Homo sapiens: one gene and its partners. The protein of the gene in region 1 purifies or fractionates together with the protein of each later gene. This does not show direct contact. Each region holds a gene or a part of one and is shown in the gene's direction. Other genes may lie near its edges.

Evidence for each region.
Region 2: the proteins of TP53INP1 (region 1) and KAT14 purify together in Homo sapiens (affinity purification with mass spectrometry; one large-scale study listed by BioGRID and IntAct). This does not show direct contact.
Region 3: the proteins of TP53INP1 (region 1) and YEATS2 purify together in Homo sapiens (affinity purification with mass spectrometry; one large-scale study listed by BioGRID and IntAct). This does not show direct contact.

Annotation. Positions count from the first base shown.
Region 1 is NC_000008.11:94,939,379-94,942,878, reverse strand, and holds part of TP53INP1 (tumor protein p53-inducible nuclear protein 1), read left to right. Parts: intron 1-1,787; 5' UTR 1,788-1,937; coding exon 1,938-2,049; intron 2,050-2,658; coding exon 2,659-3,019; intron 3,020-3,500. UniProt on the Homo sapiens protein: Antiproliferative and proapoptotic protein involved in cell stress response which acts as a dual regulator of transcription and autophagy. Acts as a positive regulator of autophagy.
Region 2 is NC_000020.11:18,185,699-18,188,535, forward strand, and holds the end of KAT14 (cysteine-rich protein 2-binding protein), read left to right. Parts: intron 1-1,587; coding exon 1,588-1,761; 3' UTR 1,762-2,337; downstream 2,338-2,837. UniProt on the Homo sapiens protein: Component of the ATAC complex, a complex with histone acetyltransferase activity on histones H3 and H4. May function as a scaffold for the ATAC complex to promote ATAC complex stability. Has also weak histone acetyltransferase activity toward histone H4.
Region 3 is NC_000003.12:183,700,797-183,704,296, forward strand, and holds part of YEATS2 (YEATS domain-containing protein 2), read left to right. Parts: intron 1-3,500. UniProt on the Homo sapiens protein: Chromatin reader component of the ATAC complex, a complex with histone acetyltransferase activity on histones H3 and H4. YEATS2 specifically recognizes and binds histone H3 crotonylated at 'Lys-27' (H3K27cr).

The DNA of each region.
Region 1 (3,500 bases):
CTGCTATTGTGACCCTCCCTCTGGACCTTGAGCGGTACTGAAGGTGCCACATTCTCACTCATCCACAGGCTTCCATAGTGTTCCTTTGCCCCCTTCCTCCATTACTGACCTCAGCCACTCAAGAGTAAAGTCATTGCAGGAGTCCACCCAGGTAGCCTGGAGAACACCAAATACTTCTTCCATGGCATTCATCACACTGGATTGTTAAACTTGTGGGAGGGCCCTGTTCACAGCCATCTCCCCTGTGCCCAGCACTGCACCTGATGCATAACAGGTGCTCAGTAAATACATGTAGAATAATAGTTGACCTGGACTGAGGACTTTATTCGAAGTATTTTGCTAAGTCCATTGCCTTTAACAAGAGTAGGATCAGGGAGACTGTCTAGTAGACAGTTTTGGCAAAGTCTCAGAGACAACAGTTTGGCTTAAACTAGGATGAGAGTGGTGGATGGAAGCAGGCAGATTCGAGCTGCCTGTGCTCCTGGGGTTGACGGGACTTGGTGGTTGGGATGAGGGGTGAGTAGGAGGGAGCAAAAGGCATGCGGGTGCGGCAGCTCACGCCTGTAATCCTAGCACTTTGGGAGGCTGAGGTGGGCGGATCATGAGGTCAGGAGATCGAGACCATCCTGGCTAACATGGTGAAACCCTGTCTCCACTAAATAAAAAAAAAAGAAATTAGCCGGATGTGGTGGTGGGCGCCTGTAGTCCCAGCTACTTGGGAGGCTGAGGCAGGAGAATGGCGTGAACCCGGGAGGCAGAGCTTGGAATGAGCCAAGATCGCCTCACTGCATGCACTCCAGCCTGGGCAACAGACAAAGACTCCGTCTCAAAAAAAAAAAAGCGTGAAGGGTGACTGCTAGGGTGTTGGCCTGAATAACTGCCAGCTGCTGCTGCTTCCTGAGAAAGGGATGAAGGGCAGTGTATATGAATAAGTTTGTGGGGGAAAAAAACCTATCTTTGGTATGTGTTTGGTTTGATACGCCCATCAGGTAGCCAGGTAGAAATGGATAAATATTCCAAGATCAAGCAAGCCTGGAGTTCTTCATTTAGAACTCACCAGAACTCCCTAAGGTAGGAGCTGTTGCCAGCTGAAGTCACATAACTTCCTAACTCACACAGCAAGTGAGCAGCTAGCCAGGGTTTGAATGCAGGTGGCTGACCCAGCACCCACCTGCTGAGCTGCTACACAGGAAGGGTGTTTCCAGTTCTAGGTTTGGCCAAGCTCAGTTTCCTACAGTGTAAATTTCTTCATGCCAGCTGTAGGAATTGTTTAGAAGGTCAAAGTATGCTTGCTGGGCTTACAGATTTTAAGTGTAATCAGGTGTGCTTACAGTTATAGACAAGAAGTACAGAGTAGAAGAGAAAATGAGCCAGAGGAGGATGAGGGCCTGGCATAATGGTGGTCACCAGGCACTGTTGCTGGGACTTCTGAGCAGTTGAATAACATATAGCAAGACTGTTACTATCTAGAATTTGCTCATCTGCTTGCAGAAAAGTTTGAAGGATATTATTCAAATTCACCTTATTATAAAAGCATAAATATGAAAAAGAACCAACTCTTTCCCTTTTATTTCACATTTTAAGATATTTATAGGTTGAATTTGAGTAAGAGTATTTACAAAACATTATGTTGCATTTCTTGTGTTTGACTCCTGCAGAAAGGGAATAGCTGTAGAATGTAGGCCAAGGCATATGCTTTCTTCTAAGGGTATGTGTGTATGTGTATGTACTTATGTATATATGTGCATGCTGATTTGAAATAACTTCCTTTTTCTGTTTTATTTTAGGTACAATGACTCTTCTTGCTTTTCACCTAAGTTGAATAAGCACCCTGTGCACTTTAATCTCCTGTCGGTACCATTGGGCCAACTAAAGACAAGGTTTTGAAATCTCAGCTATAAAAGACATCCAGCCAAACTCTCAGTCTTGCCTTAACAATGTTCCAGAGGCTGAATAAAATGTTTGTGGGTGAAGTCAGTTCTTCCTCCAACCAAGAACCAGAATTCAATGAGAAAGAAGATGATGAATGGATTCTTGTTGACTTCATAGGTAAGGTACACTTGGTTACTTGGTGGTTCATCTTCACAGTAAAAATGGAAACTTGCATCTCAGTTTTTGCATAAGGAAACCAATAACTGAGGGGTTTTCAGCCTTAAAAGTAAGCAGGAGTTTGTCTTTAAAAAATTGCAGGAAACCATCTGTGCTAGATAATGTCAGTGAAATTGACTGACATCAGACTTTTTAGTTTTGCAACTCTCACAGATTGATTAGATCAAGGGCACTTCATTAGAAGCCCCTTTTATTAGACAAGTAGTAACCAATATGTCTCATTACATAGTTATCCAGCAGAATAGAAACAGTCTTAAAATCACTCCTGCAAAGCCAACATAAATCTATCCCATATAGTGACACACACACACACACACACACACAGAATTTCTGTGCTCAGAAATAAATTTATAGTCATATAGATGAATATAAATGGTTTTCTGAACTAAATAAAAGAAGATACGTGAGCATCAGCTAATAGTATCATCTCTTCTTTTTCTGTGCTGTGAATTTGATGGGTGACTTTATAATGACTGCCCAATGTGATAATCATCCTCCTGTGGGACTCTTCAACAACACATGTGGACTGCAATGTGGACTACGATCTAGATACTTGCACTGGTTTCTCAGCAGAAGAAGAAGAAGAAGAGGAGGACATCAGTGAAGAGTCACCTACTGAGCACCCTTCAGTCTTTTCCTGTTTACCGGCATCTCTTGAGTGCTTGGCTGATACAAGTGATTCCTGCTTTCTCCAGTTTGAGTCATGTCCAATGGAGGAGAGCTGGTTTATCACCCCACCCCCATGTTTTACTGCAGGTGGATTAACCACTATCAAGGTGGAAACAAGTCCTATGGAAAACCTTCTCATTGAACATCCCAGCATGTCTGTCTATGCTGTGCATAACTCCTGCCCTGGTCTCAGTGAGGCCACCCGTGGGACTGATGAATTACATAGCCCAAGTAGTCCCAGGTACGTTACAAGTATTTAACTCTCTGTAGGCAGTCCACTGAGCATGCATTTTGTCTCTACTGTAATTCAAAGCTAAGTTATTAGAAGATGCAAAACTAATTTTGTTAGAGATTTATGAAAGCATGTGCATAGTACACAAGATGGTCCGTAAGATAACTTGTTGACCAGTCACAGTGTCTCACACCTGTAATCCCAGCACTTTGGGAGGCCAAGGCAGGCAGATCACTTAAGCTCAGGAGTTCAAGACCACCCTGGGCAACATGGTGAAACCCCGTCTGTACAAAAAATAACAAAAAATTAGCCAGGTGTGGTGGTGCACACCTGTAGTCCCAGCTACTCAGGAGGCTGAGGTGGGAGGATGGCTTGAACCAGGAGGCAGAGGTTGCATTGAGTCAAGATTGTGCCACTGCACATCAGCCTGGGTGACAGAGCAAGACTCTGTCTCAAAAACAAAAACTTGTTCATTTTAGATTTTTTTAAG
Region 2 (2,837 bases), on another chromosome or scaffold:
CTTTTACTTAGAAACCATTTGGTATGGAGGATTATATGTTTATGCAGGCAAGATTCCTTTTAAAGAGGAGATGAAGATGATAAAAGTTGTTTCTCCAATTTTTAATGAAACTTGCTTAATAATTCCCAAATGTTGGCAGGAACCTTGGAACCATTTTCCTAGAAATTGCTTTCCTTCTCTCCTTAGGCAGTGATTATGTAAATCACTCACTGAGTAATTAATATGTGCTACTTTGGGTGGTGGTTTTCTCTTGAGAGCTTCTCAGTTATTTCTACAACACTCCCTTTCTCTGCCCCATCCCAACCAAGAGTTGATCTCTCAGTATGCGTCTTTTTAACCTAGGAGAGCACTTAGAGGATTTGCTGCCGTATCTGTCACTGGTAAGGGCCTGAAGACAGGGCACGAATAGTACTCTGTCCTTGTGTGTGTGTGTCCTTGGTGCCCAACATGAGGGCTGGTACAGAGTCAGTCCCTGCTGAGTGTTTGCGAGGCCACTGGAGGAGTGGTTCATCTTTGCAGGTGGGCACCTTCCCCTCCAGCCAGACCATACCCCTGAGGGCCCAAACATAGGTGGCGCACAGTCGCTGGCACTCAATGATGGCCACGGTGAGATCACGTATATTTGCAATCTAGCAAACACCAATATGACCCCACAAAATTTGCTTTAAAAACTCACAAAGTGCTCTTGTCCCTGGCATACTGGTAAGTGCTCTCTTGTCCTAAAAATGCCTATGGATACACATGGAAGTTAAGCAGAGAAAGCAGGTAGCTATCAGATGACTGTCAACAGAGGAGTTCTTAGAGGCCTGAGAGAACCATGGGTTATAAATCTCAAGGACTCTATCAACTTCAGTATTTCAGTGCCTTCTTTATTAAAAAGTAAGTTCTTAAATGATATGACTTTTGGGACACCTTACTCTGTGTAGCTGATTAAAGAATCTAAGGACTTGCCTTGTGTTGATAGAATGATTGTTACTCTTTTCCCCTAAGATTAGGTCAAAGCTGAATGTAGAAATCTCAGTTCTAAGAAGCTAATTCTGTCAGTTTTAGAGAGACAGAAGGTGGACTTTGGGATTCAGAAGGTCTATACAAGGGCCTCAGGTTTTATAATTACATTCTTAATATTTCATGTTTGTGCATGTAATTTAGCAGGCCTAGTAAAGGAATTTTTACAGGTTTTGGGGAGGTACAAGATAACATCTAGTTTTAAAAAGCAAAACTTATTTTGTTTTGTATTTATTCAAGGTTATCATAGTGTTAGGTATTGAAATGTTTGACATATTTAAAGGTAATTGAGTTGTAAATAATAAAGCTGACAATAACAATATCCCCATTGACCCTTTGCTTCAAAGAAAAATAAAAAACACCCAGAATACTATCAGTTTCCTTGGTCTTGTGAATGTTTTGATCAGCAGCAAAATGTCATTCTGTTTCCAGCTGTTGCTAGGTGTTGCAATGTCTCAGCCTCAGTCTCTGATTTCTCCGGTTTCCATAACTAACTGCCTACACTTAAAAGCGTTTCTTTACCTACTCATTTTCCCTCAGGCCTTTCCATTTTTATCTTGTATTTTTCCACTCTTTTGGCAGACCTGCATGGGCAAGGACGTAACCCTTCACGTCTCAGCAAGCAACCCCGCTATGCTACTGTACCAGAAGTTTGGATTCAAGACTGAAGAATATGTATTAGATTTCTATGATAAATATTACCCATTGGAGAGTACAGAGTGTAAACACGCATTCTTTCTGAGGCTCCGGCGCTGATGCGAATACAGCTCACAGAGAAACGCATGTGCTATTGGAGAACAGGTCTTTGTGGAGATCTAAAGGCAGTGATTGATTTCACAGGGAGCTCTAATCTCTGTGATTACATGGTCCTTCAAACTCCCAACCAAAGTGAGAAAAGCGGCATGCAGTGAAATGAGCAGTGAGCAGCCCTTTAGCAAAATCGCCCTCCAGTCCTTCCTGGAGATGCCTTCAGCCAGCATCCCAGACTCCACAGTTATTTATGAATGATGTCGTGATTCTCCCTCCACCTGACAGTTTGTAAGAGTGAAAGAGCATCTAACCTGATGCTCTTGGAGAGAGATAACCTGTCTGTCATAACTTAAAGGATGAGAAAATGTGGTGTAGCTATTAAAGATTCATGCAGTCCCAAAAGGCACTGTCCTGGGATGATGAGAGATTATAAGGTGATTTCATAAAAGGAATCCAACCCTGTGCCCGGCCATTGATGTGTTGTCATTGAATCCAGGAGGATTTCTAGGGCACTGAAGTTTTGTTGTTTCTTTTGCTGACTTTGGTTACAGTCAGAAAAAATAAACTAGATGTTTGTGTCTACATGTTCTACCTGTTGTACCTATTAGCATCTTCCTGCAGGGACTTGGGCCCATGGCCTGGGAGGTTGGTTTGGGATTGGGGTTGTTGGGCAGCCTGCCATTCACCTGGCCTATCCTGGCCCTTCTCATGCCCAAGACAGTTGTTTCACAGGAGTGGAAGTGTGGGTGATGCAAGTAGAACCCTCTAGATGTACCCTGTGTGGTCTGCAGGACTGGACTGTTTGCTGTGTTTGTGGATGTTGGCGATAGACTGTCAATTAGGTTGTTTGTGATCCAACAAGAACATTTCCAAAAGTATCTAGGTGTTCTCAAATAAAAAGCTTTCTTTGCACAACCCATGGCCAGAGCGTCAATCTAGTCAGTTTGCTTTCAAACCCTCTTTAATTAAGATCAGTGGTTCTTAACTTTTTGGGACATGGATCACTTTGAGAATACAAAGAAAGCTGAATACTCTCTAGAAAACTGTCATGCACATTTAAAATTTTGCATCAGGGATCTGTC
Region 3 (3,500 bases), on another chromosome or scaffold:
GATACAAAAAGCCACGTGCTGTATGATTCTATTTATACGAAATGTCCAGAAACAGGCAAGTTTATCCACACAAAAAGTAGTTGCCAGGGGGATGAAGGGAGAGGAGAATTGAGAGTGACAATTAAGAGGTAAGTGGTTGCTTTTTGGAGTGATGAAAACATTATGGAATTAGATAGTGGTGATTTTTGTGCAACTTTGTGAATATACTGAAATCCACTGAATTGCACTCTTTTAACTGGTGTGTGTATATATATATGTGTGTGTGTGTGTGTGTGTATATATATATAAATTTTTTTTTTTTTTGAGAAGGAGTCTCGCTCTGTCGCCCAGGCTGGAGTGCAGTGGCGCAATCTCAGCTCTCTGCAAGCTCTGCCTCCCGGGTTCACGCCTTTTCCTGCCTCAGCCTCCTGGGTAGGTGGGACTACAGGCACCCACCACCTCGCCTGGCTAAGTTTTTTTGCTTTGTATTTTTATTAGAGACGGGGTTTCACCATGTTAGCCAGGATGATCTCGATCTCCTGACGTCGTGATCTGCCTGCCTTGGCCTCCCAGTGCTGGGATTACAGGCTTGAGCCACCGCGCCCGGCCGGTCAATATATATATTTTTTGAGACAGGGTCTGTCTCTGTCGCCCAGGCTGGAGTGCAGTGATGCAGCCGTAGGTCATTGCAGCCTTGAACTCCTGGGCTCAAGCGAGCCTCCCACCTCAGCCTACCAAGTAGGTGGGACTACAGGTACACACCACCATGCCCAGCTAATTTTTTTCTTTTTCTTTTTCAGTAGAGACAAGGTCTCCCTATGTTGTCCAGGCCGGTCTTAAACTCCTGGGTTCAAGCAATCCTCCTGCTTTGGCCTCCCAAAGTGCTGGGATTACAGGCACATGAGCCACTGTGCCTGGCCTAAAACAGTACCTTTTAAGTTAAGTGAATTATATTTCAATTAAAAAAGTATATCCACACTCTCAAATAAATTAAAACTTAAAAACAAAATACATAACAATCGCCAGTAGAAGCACTGCAGGTAAAGTTCAAGCCCCTCCCCACTGCATTCTCCTCACCCTCAGCTTTCATTACAACCACTTAACAGGTTCCCCACAGCTCACTCCTCAGACAAGCAGGATAAACAGCCCTTGCCTAGAACTAGTTCTACTTCTCCATGTCTGCAGTCATCAAAGTTCACATGCCTGAACATCTCACAGTTACTTTCCAATGGGCTCATATTTCACCTCTACCTTCTCCGCTTACCGAAATGCTCTTCATCCTTCAAGAATCAAATTCCGACTCATCCATGAAGTGAACTCCAGCCTTCGAAAGCTTTTTTTCCCCCTAACTACTACAGAACAGATGATATGGAAACAATCTGCATCAGGCCAGCCGCGGTGGCTCATACCTGTAGTCCCAGCACTTTGGGAGGCCAAGGCGGGTGGATCATTTGAGGTCAAGCGTTCGAGACCAGCCTGGCCAACATGGAGAAACCCTGTCTCTACTAAAAATACAAAAATGAGCCGGGTGTGGTGGTGCGTGCCTGTAACCCCAGCTACTTGGGAGGCTGTGGCTGGAGAATCACTTGAACACGGGAGGCAGAGGTTGCAGTGAGCCAAGATCGTGCCATTGCACTCCAGCCTGGGCGACATAGTGAGACACTGTCTCAAAAAATTAAAAAAATTACCTTAAAAATCTCAAACCCCTTAAACATCCCACATGCCTCATTCTTCCAGAAAAAGAAAGTTGAACCGGTGGGGTAAAGGAATGGTAAAAGTGGCCGGGTGCTGTAGCTCACGCCTATAATCTCAGCACTTTGGGAGGCTGAGGCGGGTGGATCACCTGAGGTCAGGAGTTCGAGACCAGACTGACCAATATGGTGAAACCCCGTCTCTACTAAAAATACAAAAAAATTAGACGTGGTGGTGTGCGCCTGTAGTCACAGCTACTCGGAGGCTGAGACAGGAGAATTTCTTGAACCCGGGAGGCGGAGGTTGCAGTGAGCCAAGATTGCGCCACTGCACTCCATCCTGGGCGACAGCAAGACTCTCTCTCTCAAAAAAAAAAAAGGGAATGGTAAAAGTTACCTAAAGTCAGCTTTCCAGGTGCATTAATGGAGAGAAGCAGTGGCATGGATAATTTAGAGGAGCTGTTTTATCCTACAGTCTTCTGTGTGCTAGTTTGCAAGGTTGTAGACAGCGTACTGGCCAGAATGGATTCTGGGGGCTGACCATATTAGCAAATTGTGTAGTCTTAAAGCCGTTTTATTTATAGGAAAGTTGGTGTTTTTGACCTGGAAATATATAAGACTGAAATAATGAGACAGTGTTTTTGAGCTCAGCTGTCTTTTGCTCAGCTCTTTACATGTTATTAGAAATGTCCCACATCACGTCAGTCCTAATGACCAGATCGCTCAGCTTCTCGCCATTCAGGTCCAGTATAAAATTTTGATTATTTTTACTTAAAAGATCTGTTTTTGTTTTGGATGCCAGATGAGTTAAAGAAAAAGTGATATGTTAGCCAGCAAATGGGAACATATTCAAAAGGTTTTGTGTGTCAGACCTGACTTAGAATAATTAGCATAGCATTTTTTTGTCGGTACTAACTCTGGTGAAAATCATAACAGAATCTTCTGTCTCCTAGAGTTCCCTTGGTCTGAGTCTGTCCTTTAATAGAGGTTGGTGCAAAAGTAGTTGTGGTTTTTACTTTTGCACCAACCTAATAGATAACTTCTCGTTCCTTCTGTTACAAAATGAGCATAACTTTGGAAAGACGATCAGGTGTATTTTGTTTTTTCAGTTCTTTGTATCAAAGGGAGGTGACAGTGTTAAGAGTAATGTTTAAATAGGTGGAGAAATTTTAATTGACATTGAAATATAGATTTTGATTTTTTTGATAGGGCTTCTGCATGCCTAATGATTTTCTCAGTATAATATTAAAATGGATATATATTCTTAGAGTGTACATTGAACAGTCTTTGGGAAGAGTGGATGGTGTTGGGGTGAAGCTGCTGCCGTATTTAGTTTTCAAAATAGAATTCAGGAAATGGATCATATGTATTTGGATTACTGAAAGTCAGTTTCATTAAAATGTTCCTAAAGGGGCCAGGCGTAGTGGCTCACGCTTGTAATCCCAGCACTTTGGGAGGCTGAGGCAGGCGGATCACCTGAGGTCAGGAGTTCAACCCTCCCTCTACTAAAAAAATAAAATAAAATAAAATAAAAAATAGCCAGATGTGGTGGTGGGTGCCTGCAGTCCCAGCTACTTAGGAGGCTGAGGCAGGAGAATCACTCCAACCTGGGAGGCAGAGGTTGCAGTGAGCCGATATTGCGCCACTGCAATCCAGCTTGGGCAACAGAGTGAGACTCCATCTCAAAAAAAAAAAAAAAGCTTCCTAAAGCTTCAACAGTAGACTTGTGTAGTACAAATCCCCTTCGTTCTAGATCTCCCCACTTTGGTTTTAGGATTTAGCCTTTGTTCGTTCTGCTTGTTTCTTTTTCTGTTGCTGGCAATAAAACTT